Regions from separate parts of the Homo sapiens genome. Here regions 2, 3 and 4 are each linked to region 1. Evidence: fine-mapped expression QTL. A gene starts in region 1. Each other region holds a variant in brackets. All regions are shown on one strand. Distances are between the middles of the regions.

Region 1 (5,148 bases):
GGGGCAAGCCTGTGGGACAGGCACCAGAGGATCTGGCTTCTACCTCCAGGTACCCGGCCCTCCTCATGCCACGTTTCTGCAGCTGCCTAGGCCAAGGGTAGGATGACGTGGACCTTAGGAAAGGAGCCAGGGCTCTGTGGTCTGATCCTCTGCCTGAGCACTGTTCCCACCAACCCAAGCCCATTGAAAAGGTTTGGGACACCAAGAGGTAGCAGGTTCCTGCGTTTAGACTGTAACCAGCACGTGATACCAAGCCTGTAAGTATTTGCCTTTCATTCAATTTAACAAATATTGATTAAACAAATACCATGCACTAGGCACTATACTGGGCATTGGGTATACACACGTTAGCAAGACAAATAGAGTTTCCAGTCAAGTGGGGGAGGCAAATAGTACATAGCTACAAAGAAGCTATGAAGAAAAAGAACAGGAGATTAATGGGGGCTTTCTCATTTAGATTGGGAGACCAGGGATGGGCTGAGAAAGTAATATTTGATCTGAGACTGGAAGAATGAAAGTTAGCCGCTTTAAGTAGATAGGAGTAGTATTTCAGGCAGAGGGGAACAGTGTGTGCCAAGTCCCTGGAATATGAAGGAGTGCATGAGAGGAACTGAAAGAAAAGGCCAGGATGGCTGTAGTATAGTAAATAAGGAAGGGGCATGGGTCCAGATGGTGCAGGGCTTTGTGAGCCATAGTAAGATATTTGTGTTTCATACGAAGTGCAACGGGAAGCCATTGAAGTTTGGCAGATTAAATGTGGTACGTGTATTAGTACTACCAAACTTGTGGCAGGCCCTGAGAGACTTACTTTGGTTGTTTATTCATCAATACCTACAATAAATGTTTAAAGGGTACCCAGCAACCCTGTGCTAGAATTATGGGCTGACAGTCATGGTAGGGAGATGTCTAAGGCACAGACCTTCCTCACAGCCTGTGGTCCAGAAGAGATTAGATAACTACAGTGATTGAATCAAGAAGTCATGTAATTTATTCTCAACAACTGTAAACTACACACCTAATCTATTCCAAACCCTGTGCTGGATGCTGGTTGTTGCCCTTCAAGGATCACACACTGCACAGGGGTCAAGGAGAGGTACAAACGTGCTCAAAGAATTTGGAGTGGGTTAGAATCATTTTCTAACCCACTGTAATCATTATCATGCCTGCGAATCTCTGAGGTCTTTATAAAACATCCATTTATTCAATCACCTAATAAATCAGTAAACATCTAGTGGGCATATGCTTTGCACCAGGAACTGTGCCAGCTACTGAAGTCAAGGACCTTAGAGTTCTATAGCAGAGACAGACATCCCCCACAAAAAAACATGAAAATATTAGGTGCTACAAACAGGACAGCAAGCTCTCCATAGATCAGCATTGAGGGAGGGTAATTCAGTGGAAGAAGGACCTTCCCCAAATGGGAAGCTCCTAACTTCCTGAGTGCATTTGTCCATACCTTCCTTTACCTGATTACTCTTTTTATTCTTTTTTTTTTTTCTTTAAGGCTGATTTTTAGTGGCAGCCTTCCTTCTGACTTTGGGCTGTCCCCAACTTCCCCTCCCCACCCCAGTAGACCCCAGTAGACTTCATTTTCTTTGTCTTGACATCCTTTAAAAAGCCAAAAGTCTCCAACATTTGAGCCTGGCTTCTCTCTAATTATGGTTGTGTGTGATCTCAAACAATTAACTTCCCTGAGCCCGTTTTCCCATTTGTACAATGAAGGGATTGGATCACATCTAAGGCTTATGATTTACTCCAGTAAGTATTCACACTCTTGCACACACTGCTCTGCACGGCCTTCCTTTCTTTGTACCGCTGCACTCATACTTCCACTCCTGTGCCACATGGCAAACATCAAGACTCAACTCAATAATATCCTATCTTCCAGCAAGTCTTCCCTGTATATACAATAAAACACACACACACACACACGTGCGCACACACAACTGTGTGTGTCTTCCTTTATGCTACCACTACCTCGTGAGAGGGCCACAGAATGAAAAGGGCAAGGGAGGTATAAGACTTGGGTTTGGGCCAGGCGCGGTGGCTCACGCCTGTAATCCCAGCACTTTGGGAGGCCAAGGCGGGCGGATCACAGGGTCAGGAGTTTGAGACCATCCTGGCTAACATGGTGAAACGCCACCTCTACTAAAAATACAAAAATTAGCCGGGCGTGGTGGCACGCGCCTGTTATCCCAGCTACTCGGGAGGCCGAGGCAGGATCGCCTGAACCTGGGAGGTGGAGGTTGCAGTGAGCCGAGATTGTGCCATTGCCCTCCAGCCTGGGCAACAAGAGAAAAAATTCCGCCTCAGAAAAAAAAAAAAAAAAAAAGACTTGGGTTTGCATCGTGGTCTCTCACCTTTTGAACCTCAGTTTCTCACCTGTAACAGGAGGGAATACCTAATTTGGATGTCTAATTAGTTTATGGGGATTAGAAACAATTCATGTCAAGTGCTTGGCACCTAAGAAGTGCTCAATAAATAGCGACTGTACCACACCTCCTAGGAGCCCTCAGCGTACTGAATTAGAGTTCTCTATAAGTCTCCGGCGCTAGACTGCGAACTGCCTGAGAGCATCCCTTCTGCAGCCGCGGGGCATAAGCGGCAAAGACTCGGGGCTGGCAGGCGCATAGGGAGTGGGGCGGGGCTGGCCGGGCCCAGAGGAACGCGGCTCGGATTCCCGGGGGAAGGCCAAGCGGGGCGGACCCCATCTCCGGGAAGTGACGCCATGGGGACGAGCGGCACCAGAGCCGGGGCCAGTCGGAGCGGGGCGCGCGCCGCATGGCGGAAGCGGAAGGGAGTTCTCTGCTCTTGTTGCCGCCGCCGCCACCCCCGCCCAGGATGGCGGAAGTGGAGGCGCCGACGGCGGCCGAGACGGACATGAAGCAATATCAAGGCTCCGGCGGCGTCGCCATGGATGTGGAACGGAGTCGCTTCCCCTACTGCGTGGTGTGGACGCCCATCCCGGTGCTCACGTGAGTCTCTTCCGGCATCCGCCTGGGGACGAGGAGGGCCCAGGGAGAGCCGGAGTCGGGCCGGGCTAGCCTCCGGCCCCAACGCGCAGCAAGCCTTTTCCTCGGGTCTGGCCCGCACGCCTCGCCCAGTCACCAGAACCCCGCCATCCATGTAGTGCCAGTTTGTGCACACGGCTGGGACACGCTCCCTGCTCTCAATACACCTGGTGTAGCCAGGGAGAGAGTTGTAGGCCAGCAGGAAAGGGCAAGTGGCTGGGAGACTCGAGCTGTGAGTGTGTAGAAGAGGGAGCCCCTTATCGGATCTGAGGAGACATTTTTATTAATTCACTGGTTTATTCTCTCATTGAGCAAATGCTTACTGGTCGCTTACCATATTCCAGACATACTGCTGGGTCTGGGAGCAAGAGTGGGAGTTTGGTTGGGACCACACGAGATCCTGGGATGTCAACATTGGAAGGGCCCCCAGAGATCTGAGAGTCCAACCCTTTGTCTCACGTGCCATCTCAGTTGCAAACTGGGTTTAGATCCCAGGTTGTCTGCCTCCCAGACCAAAGTTCTTTCTGTAACATCAGCCTTTGTCAGGGGAGAAGCAGGTGCTCTGGTACTACTTGGCGCCTTTTGGGAGGAGCTCTCATATGGGGAGAGGTGGTTTGCCCTCCTGCTTCAACCTTGACAGCTGATAAACGTAACCCCTCCTCACCGTGCTGGATAGTTTGCCAAGCTCTTAAACACCCATTTTATCAGAATTAAACATCCATTTTCTAAGGTAGGTTATCTTCTCAGATGGTGAAGCTGAGCTGCTTGTAGCATTAAGTGTCTTGATCAGGTTCGCACCCCAATAAGCAAAGGCATGAAGAGCTCAGTCTTCTGATCTAACTTGCTCTTTGCACTACATCTTATCCACTCTCACCTGATGGGATAGCTTGTTCCGCTATCAATAACAGCCAGTGGTGATGTGGAGAAGGGATCATTTGGGGCCTTAGGTGTTGCTGATTCTAAAAAGATCGTAGTTTTTGAATTATGTTAAAATACTTGAATTATTTTGTGTTTTCAAGTACTTATGCATATAAGAGCATCCAAATCTGTTCTTTAAAAATAAAATATTGGGACAGGCGCGGTGGCTCATGCCTGTAATCCCAGCACTCTGGGAGGCAGTGGAGGGTGGATCGGTAGGTAGTTCGAGACCAACCTGGCCATCGTGGCGAAACCCGTCTCTACTAAAAATACAAAAATTAGCTGGGCATAGTGGCACGTGCCTGTAATCCCAGCTACTCTGGAAGCTGAGGCAGGAGAATCGCCTCAACCCGGGAAGTGGAGTTTGCAGTGAGCCGAGATTGCACCACTGCACTTCAGCATGGGCAACACAGTGAAACTCCGTCTCAAAATAAATAGTGAAATAAAATCTTAGGAAAATGTGCACATTAATTCATTCAGTGTTCTTCTAACACATGTGCTAAGTGACCCCTGTGTTCCCAGATAGTTCTAGGTGATGCGAATATACAGTGATGAATAAAGGAGATATGGTCTTTAGACTTTTGAGAGTTTAAGTCATAGTGGAAGGAGATAGACAGTAAACAAGTAAGCTAATAAAAGAGCACCTGATAGTGATGAGTGCTGTGAAGAAAATAAAATATTAGTGTGAAAATAACAGGGGCCGGGCGTGGTGGCTCAGGCCTGTAATCCCAGCACTTTGGGAGGCCCAGGCGGGCGAATCACCTGAGGTCAGGAGTTCAAGACAAGCCTGACCAACATGGAGAAACCCCATCTCTACTAAAAATACAAAATTAGCCGGGGTGGTGGCACATGCCTGTAATCCCAGCTACTCAGGAGGCCGAGGCAGGAGAATCACTTGAACCCGGGAGGTGGAGGTTGCGGTGAGCCAAGATCGTGCTTTTGCACTCCAGCCTGGACAACAAGAGCAAAACTCCGTTTCAAAAAAAAAGAAAATAACTGGGAGGGATACTCAGGAAATGTATTGGTTTTCTTAAAACCTGTCTTGTGATCCTAAACTCTCTTTAGCCTTTCTTATTCTCAAAAACACCATCTGTGGCGTGGTCCTCTGCGGAGAATGGTAGCAGCGTGAGGTGGAGGCACCACAATCCCTTGTCACCTGGGCCAAAAGCAGCTCATAGCCCATTTCTATTCAGATCTGTGTACAGGTGTTCATAAGACC
Region 2 (5,148 bases), 47 kb before region 1:
CACCATTACACCCCAGCCTGGGCAACCCCAGCCTTGTCTCTAAAAAAATAAAAATAAACTACATATATAGAAATTTGTATTTATCTATTATTTCCAGCTCTGTCCACGCAAAGGTAATTTAGAAGCAGTAATACCATAGTAATTATGGGTTACTAGTTTCTAAATGCCATTCTCTATTAAAAGGAAGCAGGGATCCTTGGAGAAATAACTAATTCTAGTCTTGGGACAGGGCAAAAGTTGATATAGTCTTCAAAAATTTCAGTGTCATAGGAAACAAAAAAGGGCTGAGGAACTGTCTCAGATTAAAAGAAACAGAAAATGACTAATTTTCTTTTTCTTTTCTTTTTTTTTTTTTTTTTTTTGAGATGGAGTCTCGCTCTGTCAGCCAGGCTGGAGTGCAGTGGCACGATCTTGGCTCACTGCAACCTCTGCCTCCCAGGTTCACGCCATTCTCCTGCCTCAGCCTACCAAGTAGCTGGGACTACAGGCGCCCGCCACCACGCCCGGCTAATTTTTTGTATTTTTAGTAGAGACGAGGTTTCACCATGTTAGCCAGGATGGTCTTGATCTCCTGACCTCGTGATCTGCCTGCCTCAGCCTCCCAAAGTGTTGGGATTACAGGCGTGAGCCACCGTGCCCGGCCAGTGACTAATTTTCTTAATGACATTAAGAAAACATAAACCAAATGCAGTGTGTGATCCTGGATTGGATTCTGAATGAGGAAAATAAAATGGACATTATTGGACAGTTAGTGAAATTTGAATATGGACTATACGTTAGACAACAGTATTGTATCAGTGTTAAATTTTCTGATTTTGATAAATATGCGCTGGTTAAATAAAAGAATGACCAATGTTCTTAAGAATTATACACTGAAGTATTTAAGTGTAAGGGGTCCTGAAGTCTACAACTGATTTCTCAAATGGTTCAGAAAAAAAGTACTAAGTACTTTACACGTGTGTGTGTGTGTGTGTGTGCGTGTGTAGAGAGAGAGAAAGGAGAGGGAGGGAGAGGGAAAAAGATTATTTAATTTATCAATTAGGTAAAATGTATATATGGGCATTCTTATACTATTCTTGCAAACTTTTTATGTTTGAAATTGTTTCAAAATAGAAAGTTTAAATTGTTCATTAGGAAAATACAAAGGGCTGAGCATAGTGGCTCACACCTGTAATCCTATCACTTTGGAGGCTGAGGTGGGAGGATCACTTGAGCCCAGAATTGTGACCAGCCTGGGCAACATAACAGGACCTCATCTCTACAAAAAAATACAAAAATTAACCAGGTGTGGTGGTGTGTGCTTGTACTCCCAGCTACTAGGGAGTCTAACATGGGAGGATTGCTTGAGCCTAGGAGGTTGAGGCTGCAGTGAGCCATGATCATACCACTTACTCCAGCCTGGGCAATGGAAGGAGACACTGTCTTTAAAAAAGAGAGAGAGAGAGAGGGAAAGAAAAAAGAAAAGAAAATACAGAGAACTGGCTGGGGCACAGTGGCTCATGCCTATAACCCCATACTTTGGCAGTCAGGAGAATCATTTGAGGCCAGGAGTTTGAGACCAGCCTGGGCAACACAGCAAGACCCCATCTCCATAAAACATTTTTTAAAAGTAAAAGAAAATACAAAGAACTGTTGTAGTGGCAGCAACCAAGTAAGAGAGCCAGAAGGGAGGTTGAGATTAAACAATTTAAATTTAAATTAATGAGGATTAATTTAAGCCGTTCTAGTATATAAGACCCAATCAGTTTTCCACTTTCCTTGGACATTTTTGCTGAGCATTCCACATCCCTCTTTAGTTACATGTGCCAGCTCATCTCATGAGTTTTATTGTCACAACTGACAAGAACCAAATATCCTGGGATTCCAGCCATGGCCTGCAGTCCTCACTTTTTTGGGGAGTTGCTTGCTTTCATTTTGTATGTATTACCAGGGATCTCCCAAGATCACCTTGGAAGTTGTGATCACACTTTGATTCCTGCTATTTCATTCACTTGTGGGATTTCTTGGCACCGTATTAGACACATGGTAGAGAGAAGAAGAAAGGAATCTCACTTTACAAATCAGAGTAAAACTCAGCATTTCTAAGGTCAGATAAGTGGTAGAAATAAGATTTAAAAGATTTATATCAGGCTTATCTGGCTGCAGAGTTCATATCCTTTCCACCTCAACCATATGTCTGTTTTAAAAATGGCTTAATAGATAGTTCCTGGCTTGGTGGATTTATTCTCTTGCCTTATTAGTTTTCTTCATATTATCCTTAAACAATTGCAAACATTATGTATCTATCTCACCTTTACAATCTGGCCTGCTTGCTTTTTCCATTTTGTTTCTTATATTATTTTAGCATACATTCAAATTATGAATTTATGGAAACAAGTCATATGAAACTAGATTGATTTCCTTTGTGAATAGCTTTGGTAGACCAGAGCAGTTCCATGGGCATAGTGTAACCTTATTCTAACAAAGACTTGTCAGAGCTTTTTAAGGTAATACCATTTTAGAGAAGTAAACTAGATACCAAGTTCATTAAACAGTCATGTTTAAAGAAAAAGATGCCAGCCTGGCCAACATGGTGAAACCCCTTCTCTACTAAAAATACGAAAAATTAGCCAAGCATGATGGCAGGCACCTGTAATCCCAGCACTTGGGAGGCTGAGGCAGGAGAATTGCTTGAACCCAGGAGGCGGAGGTTGCAGTGAGCCGAGATTGCACCACTGCACTCTAACCTGGGCGACAGAGTGAGACTCTGTCTCAAAAAAAAAAAAAAAATAAAGAAAAAGATGGAGCGGGGATCTGACTTTGTGAGAGATTTCCTTTCGTGAGGACTGTCCTTTAAATCCAGATCAGCAATTTGTGGCCAGTGGGCCAAATCCAGAATGTCGCCTGTTTGCTTGTTTGTTATTTTATTTAATTGAGTGGTTTTGACTATTCACAAACTATACTCACAAAGTTTTGCAACCATCCCTGCTATCTAATTCCAGGATGTTTTCATCACCCCAAAAAGGAACCTCTTACCCATCTTAGCAGTCACTTCCTTCTCCCATACTGGCCCTACCCCAGAAACCACTAATCTATTTTCTGTTGCAATGGATTTTCCTATTCTGAACATTTCACGTAAATGAAATTATAAAGT[G/A]TGTGGCTTTTTAGCATAATGCTTTTAAGATTCATCTATGTTATAGTATGAATCTGTACTTCTCTTTTTTGCGGCCAAATAGCATTCCATCATTTGGATGTACCACATTCTGTCTATCCATTCATCAGTTGGTGGAACATGTGGTTGTTTCTATTTTTTGGCTATTATAAATAATGCTGCTATGAACCTTCATGTACAAGTTTTTGTGTGGACATGTTTTCTTCACTTTTCTTGGTATATACCGAAGGGTGGAATTGCTGGGTCATATGGTAACTCAGTGTTTAACTTTTTTGAGGAACTGCCAAACTGTTTTCCAAAGTGGTACCACCATTTTACATTCCCACCAGAAATGTGTGAGGGTTCCAATTTGTCTGCATCCTTGCCAACACTTCTTATTATCAATATTTTTTATTATAGGCCAGGCGCGGTGACTTATGCCTATAATCCCACACTTTGGGAGGCCGAAGCAGGCAGATCACAAGGTCAGGAGATTGAGACCATGCTGGCTAACACAGTGAAACCCCATCTCTACTAAAAATACAAAACTTAGCCAGGTGTGGTGGCACACACCTGTAGTCCCAGCTACTTGGGAGGCTGAGGCAGGAGAATTGCTTGAACCCAGGAGGAGGAGATTGCAGTGAGCCGAGATTGCGCCACTGCACTCCAGCCTGGGTGACAGAGCAAGACTTCGTCTCGAAAAAAAAAAAGAAAAGAAAAAAAAATTTTTTTTTTATTATAGCCCTCCTGGTGGGTGTGAAGTGGTATCTCATTGTGGTTTTGATTTTCATTTCCCTAATGACTAATGATGTTGAGCATGTTTTCATGTGCTTGTTGTCATATTTGTGTATTTTCTTTGGAGAAATGTCTGTTGAGATGCTTCACTCATTTTTTAATTGGGTTGTCCTTTTTTATTGTTGAGTTATAAGATATGTATGATTTGAAATTTTGTTTCTTTTCCTTTGTGTGTTGTCTTTTCATTTTTAAATGGTGACTTTGCATAAAAGTTTTAATTTTAATGAAATTCAATTTATGTTTTATTTTTTTTTTTTAATTGATATGGGATCTGTCTCTGTAACCCTCACTGGAGTGCAGTGGCACAGTCATGGCTTACTGCAGCCTTACCCTCCCAGGCTCAAGCAATCCTCCCATCTCACCCTCTTGAGTAGCTGGGACTGCAGGCGCACACCACCATGCCCAACTAAACTTTTTTTCTTTTGTTGCTGGTGCTTTTGGTGTTGTGTCTTAAAAAACATTGCCTAATCCAAGGTCATGAATATATACACCTGTGTTTTCTTCTAAGAGTTTTGTAGTTTTAGATTTTATATGTAGGTCTTTGATCCATTTGAATTAATTTTTATGTATGGTGTGAGGTAAGGATCCAACTTCATTCTTTTACATGTGGACATCCACTTGTCCTGGCACCATGTGCTAAAAAGACTATTCTTTCCTTCTACTTAATTGCTTGACACTCTTTTTTTTTTAAGAGACGGAGTCTGGCTATGTTGCACAGGCTGGTCTCAAACTCTTAGTCTCAAGTGATCTTCCTGTCTTAGTCTCCCAAATAGCTGGGATTATAGGTACAAGCCCCTGTTCCCAGCCTGTCTTGATACTCTTATCAGAAATCAATTGACTGTAAATTTAAGGATGTATTTATGAACTCTCAACTCTAGTCCATTGATCTAAATGTCTATTCTTATGCCAGTACCACACTGTTTTGATTGCTGTAGCATTGTAGTAAGTTATAAAATTGGGAAGTATGAGTCTTTCAACTTTGTTCATTTTTCAAGATTGTTTTGTCTATTCTGGGTCTCTGGTATTTCCATATGAGCTTTATTTTATTTTAATTTGAAAAAAATTTTTTGAGACAGAGTCTCACTCTGTTGCCCAGGCTGGAGTGCAGTGGCATGATCTTGGCTCACCGCAACCTCCACTTCCTGGTTTCAAGCGATTCTCCTGCCTCAGCCTCCTGTGTAGCTGGGATTACAGGCATGCATGATGACACCCAGCTAATTTTT
Region 3 (5,148 bases), 38 kb after region 1:
ACTCTCCTCCGGAGACGCAGGCTCCTCGGCCGCAGGCTCCTCGGGCACCCTGGGCACAAGGGCGAGCTGCTGATTGAGGACGGGCAGCAACCGGCCAGTCACCTCTGTTGCCGGGTTTGAATCCTGGCTCTCCTACTTTTATGCCTACCTCACAGGCATGAACATAGATAAACCCCGCACTGAGAGGACACAACAAGTCCAAGTTAGAGTTGCCAGAACAGGGCATGGGGAGGCACCAAATGCCACATTCACAAGTGGTCAAGGTGCCCAGGTCCCCAGGGAGGGCTTTTGTAGGAGAGGAGAAAAAGGCAAAACCAGGCAAAAGGAACCCATCCCAGGAGCCTTGGTCTCACCGGAGCTGGCTGGTGCCCCCATAACTGAGGCAGCGCTTCGGGGGGCTGGGTGGGTGCTGAGAGGGTGCCTGAGGGCACGGGAATGTCTGAGACTGGGTGGTTGAGTTGGCTGAAGGAGTGGGACTGGCAGAAGGGGCATCTGAGGGAGGGACAGAGCCATCAGCTGGGCTCTCCTCCACCCTCACAGCTCCACAACTCCTCTGCCCTCCACTGTGCCCATCCCGCCACCCGCAAGCACCTGAGGGCCGTGGAGCATGTCGTGGGGAGCTGGGGCTGCGGCTCCTTTTCCCAGGCTGCAGGAAGGGGTCCCCCAGCAGTGTCTGGGCGCTGGCTCGGAGGCGGGGGTCTGGCTCAAAAGTTCGGAGGAGAAAGGCTTGGGCCTCGGCCGACAGAGAGCTGGGCATTGGCGGATGGACCTTGTACATACCCACCTGTGGGGGGAGGGTGAACAAGGGTGACATTCAGAGGTGTCCAAGGCCCAGGCTGGCCCTATGCCACTTCCATGGGCCAGGCCCAAAGAGGTCTCACCTGAAACATGGCAGCCTGTGGGCTCCCGAGCTCGTGGAAGGGGGGGCGACCTGTGGCCATCTCAATGACAGTGCAGCCCAGTGACCAGATGTCAGCTGCTTTCCCATACCCGCGTGGGCCCTGGTCAATGATTTCTGGGGCCATATACTGCAGAGTTCCTAGGACAGAAACAGGAGCACCAATGCCCATCTAGGCTTCATCATGGGGTTGGAGCAGGGAGGGGAATGCCGTCATCCTCAGGCCGACTGCACCCATACTGAACCTATCATCCAAAATATACCTCAACACCTATCCTGGTCATCAAACATCTATCCTGAGTTCCATCACCACCCTGGGCTCCATCGCCTGCCAAGGCTTCCGTCATTCATCCTGGGCTCCACCACATTCACAGACTCCATCACCCACAGTAGTGCTCCAGCACACATCCTGGATTGCCTCGTCCCCCTGAACTCCATCACCTGCTTTTTCCTCCAACTCCCACCTTGGCCTGCATCAACACTCCTCAAGTGCTAAAGTCAATTTCATCACTTCTCCAAGCTCCAGTTCCAGATGCCACCACCTCAGCCCTGGCCCAATCACTCACCCTGGGTTTCATTCCCCATTAGGACTCTAACTCCATGCCTAGGAGAAACCCCCTTCCCTGGAAAGTTCCAAGAGATCTTCTGCCCCAGGTCAGCATCCCCACTCACCACCCCCACACCTTGTTACCTGTGAAGGTCTCAGTGCAAGGTGTGATGCCTGCCAGCCGCTTGGAGGTGCCGAAGTCAGAAATCTTGAGCAGCCCACTGAAGGTGTTGATCAGCACATTGTCCCCCTGATTGACAGCCATTAGTGGACACTGGTCTGGGCCCCTGCCAGCAGAAGTAGACCCTCTTTCTGGGATCCCATCTCCTGGAGATCCCAGCCTGGTCCTGCCTCTGTCAACACTCTCCCCTTGCCATCCCACTTATATGCCCCTCTGGGAGCTGACAATTGGTTTGGCTTCAGAGCTGAACCTTTCCCCTCCTTCTCTAAGGAGCCTCCCTGATGAATTCCCTACCCTTTGCAACAGGTCTGCTCACTTAATCTAAACTGCCAGCCTGCGTCTGGGACCATGTTTCCTTCCCCGCCACCCTCAGCAGATGAGGGCGGGCCAGCCCCAGGGCTTACTTTTATGTCCCTGTGCACGATGTGGTTGTCGTGCAAGTAGCCAAGTCCCTGCAGGATCTGGCGGGTGTAGAAACTGATGGTGCTCTCGTTGTCCTTCAGGGGTCCCCACACCGACCGCAGCAAGGAGGACAGGCTGCCTGGGTGGGGACAGTCCAAGTTCATTCTTCCCACCCACTGGCTCCAGCCCACATCTCTCTGCTCAAGGCCCAGACACACCCATGTTGTAGCCCAACTCCATCACCCAGCGCCACTCCTCAGCTAATTCTAGGCTACACCACCCACACGCACTAGGGTGCATTTCCCCCTAGGGCTCTCTACCCCTGCCTGCCTCGGTCCCATGCTTCACACCTCGGTTTCATTCCCATCCCACACAGGGCAGGTACCTCCAGGCACTTCCTCCATGAAGATCTTAAGGTAGCCGCCCTGGCTAGCTGAGCCCAGATAGCGCACTATGTTCTTGTGGCGCAGGCGTCTGTGAAGAGCGATCTCTTCATGCAGGGGCTGAGAGAACCTGAGGGGAGGTAAGGGAGAGAGGAAAGGGACCGAGGTGGGCAGAGAAGCCCCGCCCATCCCACGCCAGCCTGGCCCCGCCCCAAGGACCCGCCCCGCCCACAAGCCCTCTCCGACCTTCCCCACCCTTACTACCCTGCCCACAGGACCCTCCAGACCTCAATCCCGCCCGCACGGTCCTGGCTGTTCCGCCCACGGGCCCAGTCCACAGGGCTCGAACTCTCAGGTCCTACGAGCCCGCC[C/T]ACTAGGCCCCGCCCACAGGAGCCGCTCCGCTCGTGGCCCGGCTCACTCGGCCCTCGCGAGCCCTCAGCCCCACCCGCGCTGCCACGCACCGCACCTGCTGTCCCGCTCCGGGATCTCCTTGATGGCGATGCGCACCCTCGTGTGGCGATCGCGGCCCGCGTACACCACCCCATACGTGCCCTTGCCCAGCACCAGCCGCTCGCCCGTCTCCGTGTACTCATAATCAAACTGCCGGGCGCGGGGTGAGATGGGAGTTCAGCAGGGCCCGCGGCCCCTCGCCCTCCGCGAGCTCCCAGTCCCGCGTCCTCACCTCCAACATCTCCCCCGCGCCCTCCGCCTCCTCCGCGGGCGCCGTGGAATCCGGGTTCGTCACCCAGGCCTGGATCAGGCCGCAGAACCTGAAGGTGGGGGAGGTCAGACCCGCGGGAGGGGCATCTTGGTCCCCACCTAAGCCGGAGCATCCAACGGACGTCGTCCCTTTCTTTCCCCCACTCCCCCCCGGGCATCCTGGCCCTCAGAGTACCCCGACCATGAAAGGCTGCGCACCACTGGCAGTGCCCTACGCTGGGGAAGCACAGCTGGACGTCCTGAGCCGGGGGGAGTGCATAGAGGAAGCAGCAGCGCTCGTCGCGCTTTGAGGCGCTGGGAAGGGATGAAGAACCCAGTAAGCGTCAGGCTGGGTGGCAGCGACCCTCACCTCCCGTCTTTCCAGTCACCCCAGGTCCCGCCTATCACCTGACTCCGCATATGGAGGCGACTGGGAAGGTCCAGCTGGAGGGAATGTCCTGCAAGAAGAAATGGGGTGTGATGGGGAGTGCTGGTGACAGGAGAGGGGTCTGAGGATGGGAGAAAGGCTCCACAGAAAAGGTCCTAGCAAAGGTGAGTGAGGGGCCTCAGCAGCGACTTCACCTGGGTCTCAGGCTCCAGCAGGCTCAGGGTCACTGTGCTTACTGGGTCAGTACCCCGAACCTCGAGCTTTGCAGGCAGCAGCACCTTGTTCATCTCCAGGACCAGCACCTGCAGGCAGTTGGGGAGTGGGGTCAGTCAGAAGGGGCTTACCCCTTTCCCGGGTCCACCACCCCTACAGGCCTCACCAAGCACTGGTCGCCCTGGGCACAGGCTGTCTTGAATGGTTGGCAGGACTGTAGCAAGAAGTGGAGCCAGAAGTGGGCACGGCGTGGTGGCCCTCCAGGGGGCTCTGGCGTGGGCCTGAAGTGCTGGTAGAGCAGGAAGGTCTCCATCACGGACACCAGGTACCTGCATGCAAAGCCACATCCTCAGTTCAGCCCAGGCACCAACCAGCACTGCCAGGGAGAGGAAACTGGCCTGGATATAGCTAGAACGTTGGCATGGGGTGCCACGGGCACTGGTCTAAAAGCAGCCAGGTCATTGGCTCAGGGTTCAGTCTAGCATGCCAATGGACATAGGTGCAGGAGCTGACAGCCCAGGTCAGGCCAAGAATGCAGAGGGGGCCACCTACCATATGGGGGCATTGAGCTTATACAGCTGCTCTGCAGCCAGCACCACCTGGGTGGGGTCATTGGCGAGGATCTGGGCTCCCAGGTAGAAACCCACATCCCAGTAATACTGCATCTTCTCCACGCAGCCTTTGCGGGCCAGCAGGCAGCCCAGCTTCATGCCTGGGGGAGAGAGGCATGGGCTCCAGTGAGTGTGGGTGCAGGGGTGAGTGAGGCCCACCATTTCTGTGGGCCCGAGTGTGGACATGAACATAGATATGAGTATGGCATTGAGTATGGCAAGATCTCGGGTGGGAACAGGAGCTCAGGCACAGGTATATGTGGAATTCAGGATGTAATGGACACGCAGATGTGAGTTTGGGAACATTTGTGGGTTTGAGGGCTCCTGAGGGCCCAGAACAGGTATGAGGACCCAGGTGTGGGTATGGGCAGGACAGTCCAAAATGGATGAGCTCATCCTAGCTCTTGCCCAGTGTGCTCTCTCCCTGCCCTCTTCCCAGGCCCCTCGGAACCCCTGTGGGTGACGAGACAAGAGCCAGGATCTGTGCTCACCTATTAGCCGGAGCTCTTTGGAATCCTCAAAGTGCTGCCCGGCAGCAATGAGGAGCACAGCTGCATTGATGCCTGAGTGAAGGCTGGGCTCTACGTCAAAAGCCTTGCGATACCTGGGGTGGGGGTAGGGGGCACAGGGCTGGACTGATGCCCACAGCACCACCCCTCATCTCACAGCTTAGCCCACCGGCCACTCACTGTGCTCTTTACCAGTGATAGGCCTGCTCCCGGTGCCCAGCATCCTGGAAACCCGAGCTGAAGAACATGTCCTTGTAGATACGGCCACACATGCAGTACAGATCGGGCGCCACAGAGCCCTCAAGCTGTACCAGCGG
Region 4 (5,148 bases), 130 kb before region 1:
CTGCATGGGTTTAAAAGTGCTCTGGGGGAATTTCATCTTTCAGGGGAGAAGGAAATGGTTTTATAGTAAAATCCTTATTCCTTTCAGGGTATTCAGTGCCTATTTCTGACCCCTGCCGTGACTGGAGTGGTCACAGCATGGAGAGAATCTCTGACCTCAAAGCCATGCCCTTCTTTTTGCCCAGAAGGGTGCGTCGCCATATCTGCATGTGTCCCTCCTCACTTCATTCAGGTCTCTGCCTAAAAATCAGAGAAGCCTTCTCTGATCACCCTATCCAAATGACAACCTCCATGTGTAGCCTCATAATCAGTCTAATTTGTCTTCATAGCACCTACCACGCCTTGACATATTTATAGACATTTCTTTGCTTATTGTCTGTCTCCACCCACTAGAATGTAAACTCCAGGAGGACAGGACCTGGTCTGTTTTGTTCACTGCTGTATTCTCAGTGCCTGGGATGGTGCCTGACATATAGTAGGCCCCTAACAAATATGTGGGTTTTTTTGTTTGTTTGTTTTTTGTTTTTTGTTTTTGAGACAGAGTATTGCTCTGTTACCCAGGTTGCAGTGCAGTGGCACGATCTCGGCTCACTGCAACCTCCACCTCCCAGGTTCAAGCGATTCTCCTGCTTTAGCCTCCTGAGTAGCTGGGATTACATGCTTTTGCCACCATGCCTCACTAATTTTTGTATTTTAAGTAGGGGCAGAGGTTTCACCATGTTGGCCAGGCTGATCTTGAACTCATGGCCTCAAGTGATCCACCCACCTCAGCTTCCCAAAGTGCTGGGATTACAGGTGTGAGCTCCCACCCCCAGTCACAAATATGTGTTGAATGAATACAAAGGGAAAATTCAGCTTGCTTTCACTAAGAGCATTTGACACTCCCGCTTCCATCAGCTGCTAAATTCGTCTTACCCCTCAAAGCCTTGCTCCTTTGTCCTCTCTTCAGGGACTTCTCCCTCATCTTCCCCAGCCCAGGGATTGATACAGCCACCCAACCAGCTGCTCCAGCCAGGAACTGGAAGATACCCTCACCTCCTCCTTCTTTCTTCCCACCTCTGCTCCCCGACTCCCCATTACTTCCAGTGTTCAATTAATCACCAACTCCAGTCCACTCTGCCTCTTTTTAAAAGTTTTTGGGACAGGGTCTCACTCTGTTGCCCAGGCTGGTCTCGAACTCCTAGGCTCAAGTAGTCCTCCCACCTCTGCCTCCCAAAGTGCTGGGGTTACAGGCATGAGCCACCGTGCCTGGCCTCCATTCTGCCTCTTAATTATCTCCTAAATCTGCTCATATCTCCCAATATTTGCTACACCCCCCCTACCAGGCAACCCTCCTATTTTCACTGGGTTACTGCACCAACTTTCTCACCAGCCTCCTGCCTCCAGTTTGGCCCCTGCCAGTCAGTCTCCATATTGCAATCAGTGATTGGTGTAAAGCTCAAATTTTCTCGGTAAACAAAGCATTGAGTCCTTAGTGGCCTGAGATAAAGTCCAAGATCTTAATGTGGGTTACAAAGCCCTGCCCCATCTGACCACAGCCTCATTCTTAGCCATACTCTGCTCCTGCCTCTTTGAACTATTTCCAGTTCCCCAAATGTGCTCCTGATAGTTATTTTGCCTGGGAGCTCAGGCCAACTCCTGCTCATCATTCAGGCCTCAGCTCGGATGTTGCTTTCTCCAGGAAAGCCTCCCTGACTTCTGTCCAACCAGGCTGGGCTAGAGGTCCTTAGTGTATCTTAGGGTATAGAATCAGGGCATTCTCCCTACCTGGAGGACTGCTGGTGGTCACTGGTCCAATTTCCACCCTTTTCCGTTTCTTGATAGTGTCACTGCTTAAATAGCCTTCTCTGCTTCTCCGATGCCTCTCACCCTTCAAGACCTATCTTTCTAGACTTGTTATCTAGAAAACTCTCTGGGGAGTAAAAAGAAGGCAGCCTCTGAGTGAGGATGCCCCAAGCTCAAGCCACCTCTGCCACTTCTTAGTGATACAACCTTGGGCATGTCATTGTAAAATGGAGATGATAACGTTAATATCTACCTCACAGTTGTTATAAGTAAAATTATAAATGTTAAAGGACAATTGGCCGGGCGCAGTGGCTCATGCCTAGAATCCCATCACTTTGGGAGGCCAAGGCGAACGGATCATCTGCGGTCAGGAGGTCGAGACCAGCCTGGCCAAC[A/G]TGGCGAAACCCTATCTCTACTAAAAACACAAAAATTAGTAGGGCGTGGTGGCACATGCCTGTAATTTCAGCTACTCAGGAGGCTGAGGCAGGAGAATTGCTTGAACCTGGGAGGCAGAGGTTGCAGTGAGCCGAGACTGTGCCATTGCACTGTAGCCTGGGCGACAAGAGCGAAACTCCATCTCAAAAAAAAAAAAAAAAAGAAAGAAAGATGTTAAAGGACAATGTAAACACTGCGATGTGTTATGGAGACGTGAGAATGATTATTCTCTGCTGGCACTGTGCTCCTGCAGCACTCACAGGCTGTGACCTGCCATTTGCATTTCATTATATCCTGCCTCCAGTGACCTGCTCTCTGCAACCAGTGTGGAAGCCAGCTAGGTTCTCTTCTCTAGCTCTTCCGCATCCCCTAGAGTTCAGAGATTAGTGGTGAGTAAATAGAAGGTGTATGTGATTATAACCAACTACCATTTATTTATCACCTACTATGCACTAATTACTTTACATATATTACAGTCAGGTACTGCATAATGATGTTTTACTCAACTACAGACCACATATACAGCAGTAGTTCCATAAGATTGGAACACCATGTTTTTATTGTACCTTTTTTATGATTGGGTATGTTTAGATACACAAATACTTACCATCATGTTACAATTGCCTACGGTGTTCAGTACGCTAACATGGTGTATAGGTTTGTAGCCTAGAAGCAATAGGCTGTGCCATATAGCCTAGGTGTGTAGGAGGCCATACTACCTAGGTTTGTGTAAGTACACTCTATGATGTTTACATGATGAAATCGCCTAATAACGCATTTCTCAGAATGTATCCTTGTTGTTAAGTAACGCATAGCTGTATTTCTTTTTCTTTTTCTTTTCTTTTTTTTTTTTTTGAGACGGAGTCTCACTCTGTCACCCAGGCTGGAGTGCAGTGGCGTGATCTTGGCTCACTGCAACCTCCACCTCCCAGGTTCAAGTGATTCTTCTGCCTCAGCCTCCCAAGTAGCTGGGACTACAGGCACACACCACCACGCCTGGCTAATTTTTGTATTTTTAGTAGAAACGGGGTTTCACCCTATTAGCCAGGCTGGTCTCGAACTTCTGACCTCGTGATCCGCCTGCCTCAGCCTCCCAAAGTTCTGGGATTACAGGCTTGAGCCACCACACCTGGCCCACATAGCTGTATTTCTAATTCTCAGAACTACCTGGGAGACAAGTAATTTTATCTCCACGATGCAACCTAAGGCTTAGAAAAATTAAATAACTTGCCGGGTGTGGTGGCTCACGCTTGTAATCCTAGCACTTTGGGAGGCCGAGGCGGGCGGATTGCCTGAGTTCAGGAGTTGGAGAACAGCGTGGGCAACACGGTGAAACCCCGTCTCTAATAAAATACAAAAAATTAGCTGGGCGTGGCGGCATGCGCCTGTAGTCCCAGCTACTTGGGAGGCTGAGGCAGGAGAATTGCTTGAACCCGGAAGGTGGAGGTTGCAGTGAGCCGAGATCATGCCACTGCACTCCAGCCTGGTGACAGAGCGAGACTCCATCTCAAAAAAAAAAAAAAAAGAAAGAAAGAAAGAAAGAAAGAAAAATTAAATAACTTGTCCAAGGTCACAGAGCTGTTGAGGTTAGGGACCTTGGGAATCTTTCTGGCACTTCCCCCAGCTTGATGTTAACAGGCTCATGGCCTTCCTCCTGCCGTTTCCTCTCTTGGTCATAAGCTGAGCTGTGTCCAGAGAAAGAGAAAAAATAAATCAAACTTGGGGCCTGGCAAAGGAGGTGAGTGTCATGCCACAGACCAGACACAGGGCAGGAGGAGACTTTTATTTTCTTTTATTTTATTTTTGAGACGGAGTTTCACTCTTGTCGCCCAGGCTGGGATGCAGTGGTGCAATCTCAGCTCACTGCAACCTCCGCCTCCCAGGTTCAAGCAATTTTCCTGCCTTAGCCTCCCAAGTAGCTGGGATTACAGGTGCCTGCCACCACGCCCAGCTAATTTTTGTATTTTTAGTAGAGACGGGGTTTCACCATGTTGGCCAGGCTGGTCTTGAACTCCTGACCTCAGGTGATCCTCCCGCCTCGGCCTCCCGAAGTGCTGGGATTACAGGCGTGAGCCACCGCACCCAGCCAGGAGGAGACTTTTAAAATGAAAATTAAGATACAGCTCCACCCAAAGCACTGTCACAAAGTCCTGGTTCTGTGAATGTAGAGTGTGACAGGTGGTCAGGAAAAGCCCTGCGACATCTTCTAGCTGTGTCAGCACTGAAGTGATGCCCACATCTTACACATGGAAAGTAGATCGGAGTGGGATCTGTTAGCCAGATCACTCACAGTAAGGGAATGGTCCGCTATTACAAGGGTTTCTATCCTCTATGACAAAGATTTTAATTTAGGAAGAGAAGATGCAGGGTTCATAGTGAGCCACAAGGTGGCACTGTGAGAGGAGGGCACACAAAGTACCGAATTAGAACCTCTGGACGTGAAGGATTAGAAGAGATTTTACAGCAGAGAAATACAAAGTAAACGCCTCCTTTTACAGAAGAGATATGAGGTCCAGAGAAGTTATCCAAGTTGTAGAGTTTTGTGGTTAAGCCAGTACCAGAGACCCAGGTCTGTCTGTTTCTAAGTGTGGTGCACTTAACCTGTAATGCTCACCAAATCACATCTACAGATTCCCACCCATTGCATGGTGTGATCTTACTCAAGTCACTGATGTATTTCTGGGTCTCAGTCTTCCTGACCATAGAATGTAGGACTAGTCTAGATCTGGTTTTCTTTTTCTTTTTCCTTTTTTTTGAGACGGAGTTTTGCTCTTGTTGCCCAGACTGGAGTACAATGACGTGATCTCAGCTCACTGCAACCTCCGCCTCCTGGGTTCAAGCGATTTTTCTGCCTCAGCCTCCCGAGTAGTTGGGACTATGGGCGCATGTCACCACGCCCAGCTAATTTTTGTATTATTAATAGAGACGG

Which allele goes with the higher level. Alleles are on the strand shown, and positions count from the first base shown. SD is a standard deviation of normalised expression in the study named. Not every link is listed here.
With allele C in place of T in region 3, the expression in spinal cord of the gene that starts at base 2,747 in region 1 is lower (moderate effect, 0.55 SD a copy in GTEx).

Evidence for each region. PIP is the estimated chance that this variant, and not a neighbour inherited with it, causes the effect.
Region 2: its variant is fine-mapped to the expression of TMEM222 in whole blood (TOPMed, PIP above 0.99).
Region 3: its variant is fine-mapped to the expression of TMEM222 in spinal cord (GTEx, PIP 0.95).
Region 4: its variant is fine-mapped to the expression of TMEM222 in lung (TOPMed, PIP above 0.99).

Annotation. Positions count from the first base shown.
Region 1 is chr1:27,319,417-27,324,564 of GRCh38, forward strand. TMEM222 (transmembrane protein 222) reads left to right here and starts at 2,747. Exons shown (of 6, transcript NM_032125.3): 1 at 2,747-2,975. The coding sequence starts at 2,782. It also overlaps the pseudogene ACTG1P20. RefSeq lists enhancers at 2,161-2,707, 2,708-3,255, 2,755-3,104, 3,256-3,802.
Region 2 is chr1:27,272,865-27,278,012 of GRCh38, forward strand. The region is part of intron 3 of WDTC1 (WD and tetratricopeptide repeats 1); the gene reads left to right. Among named protein-coding and RNA genes, the nearest start is that of WDTC1, 41 kb to the left of the region's middle. The variant G/A (reference allele first, on the strand shown) is at 3,134.
Region 3 is chr1:27,357,828-27,362,975 of GRCh38, forward strand. It overlaps MAP3K6 (mitogen-activated protein kinase kinase kinase 6), which reads right to left. Exons shown (of 29, transcript NM_004672.5): 7 at 5,024-5,148; 8 at 4,814-4,926; 9 at 4,264-4,423; 10 at 3,878-4,040; 11 at 3,693-3,800; 12 at 3,519-3,568; 13 at 3,330-3,425; 14 at 3,094-3,181; 15 at 2,878-3,011; 16 at 2,414-2,541; 17 at 2,031-2,167; 18 at 1,590-1,695; 19 at 882-1,039; 20 at 592-784; 2 more. Among named protein-coding and RNA genes, the nearest start is that of MAP3K6, 6.6 kb to the right of the region's middle. RefSeq lists enhancers at 1,627-2,162, 2,163-2,698, 2,793-2,922 and a silencer at 3,013-3,082. The variant C/T (reference allele first, on the strand shown) is at 2,783.
Region 4 is chr1:27,193,503-27,198,650 of GRCh38, forward strand. No RefSeq gene overlaps it. Among named protein-coding and RNA genes, the nearest start is that of WDTC1-DT, 38 kb to the right of the region's middle. The variant A/G (reference allele first, on the strand shown) is at 2,180.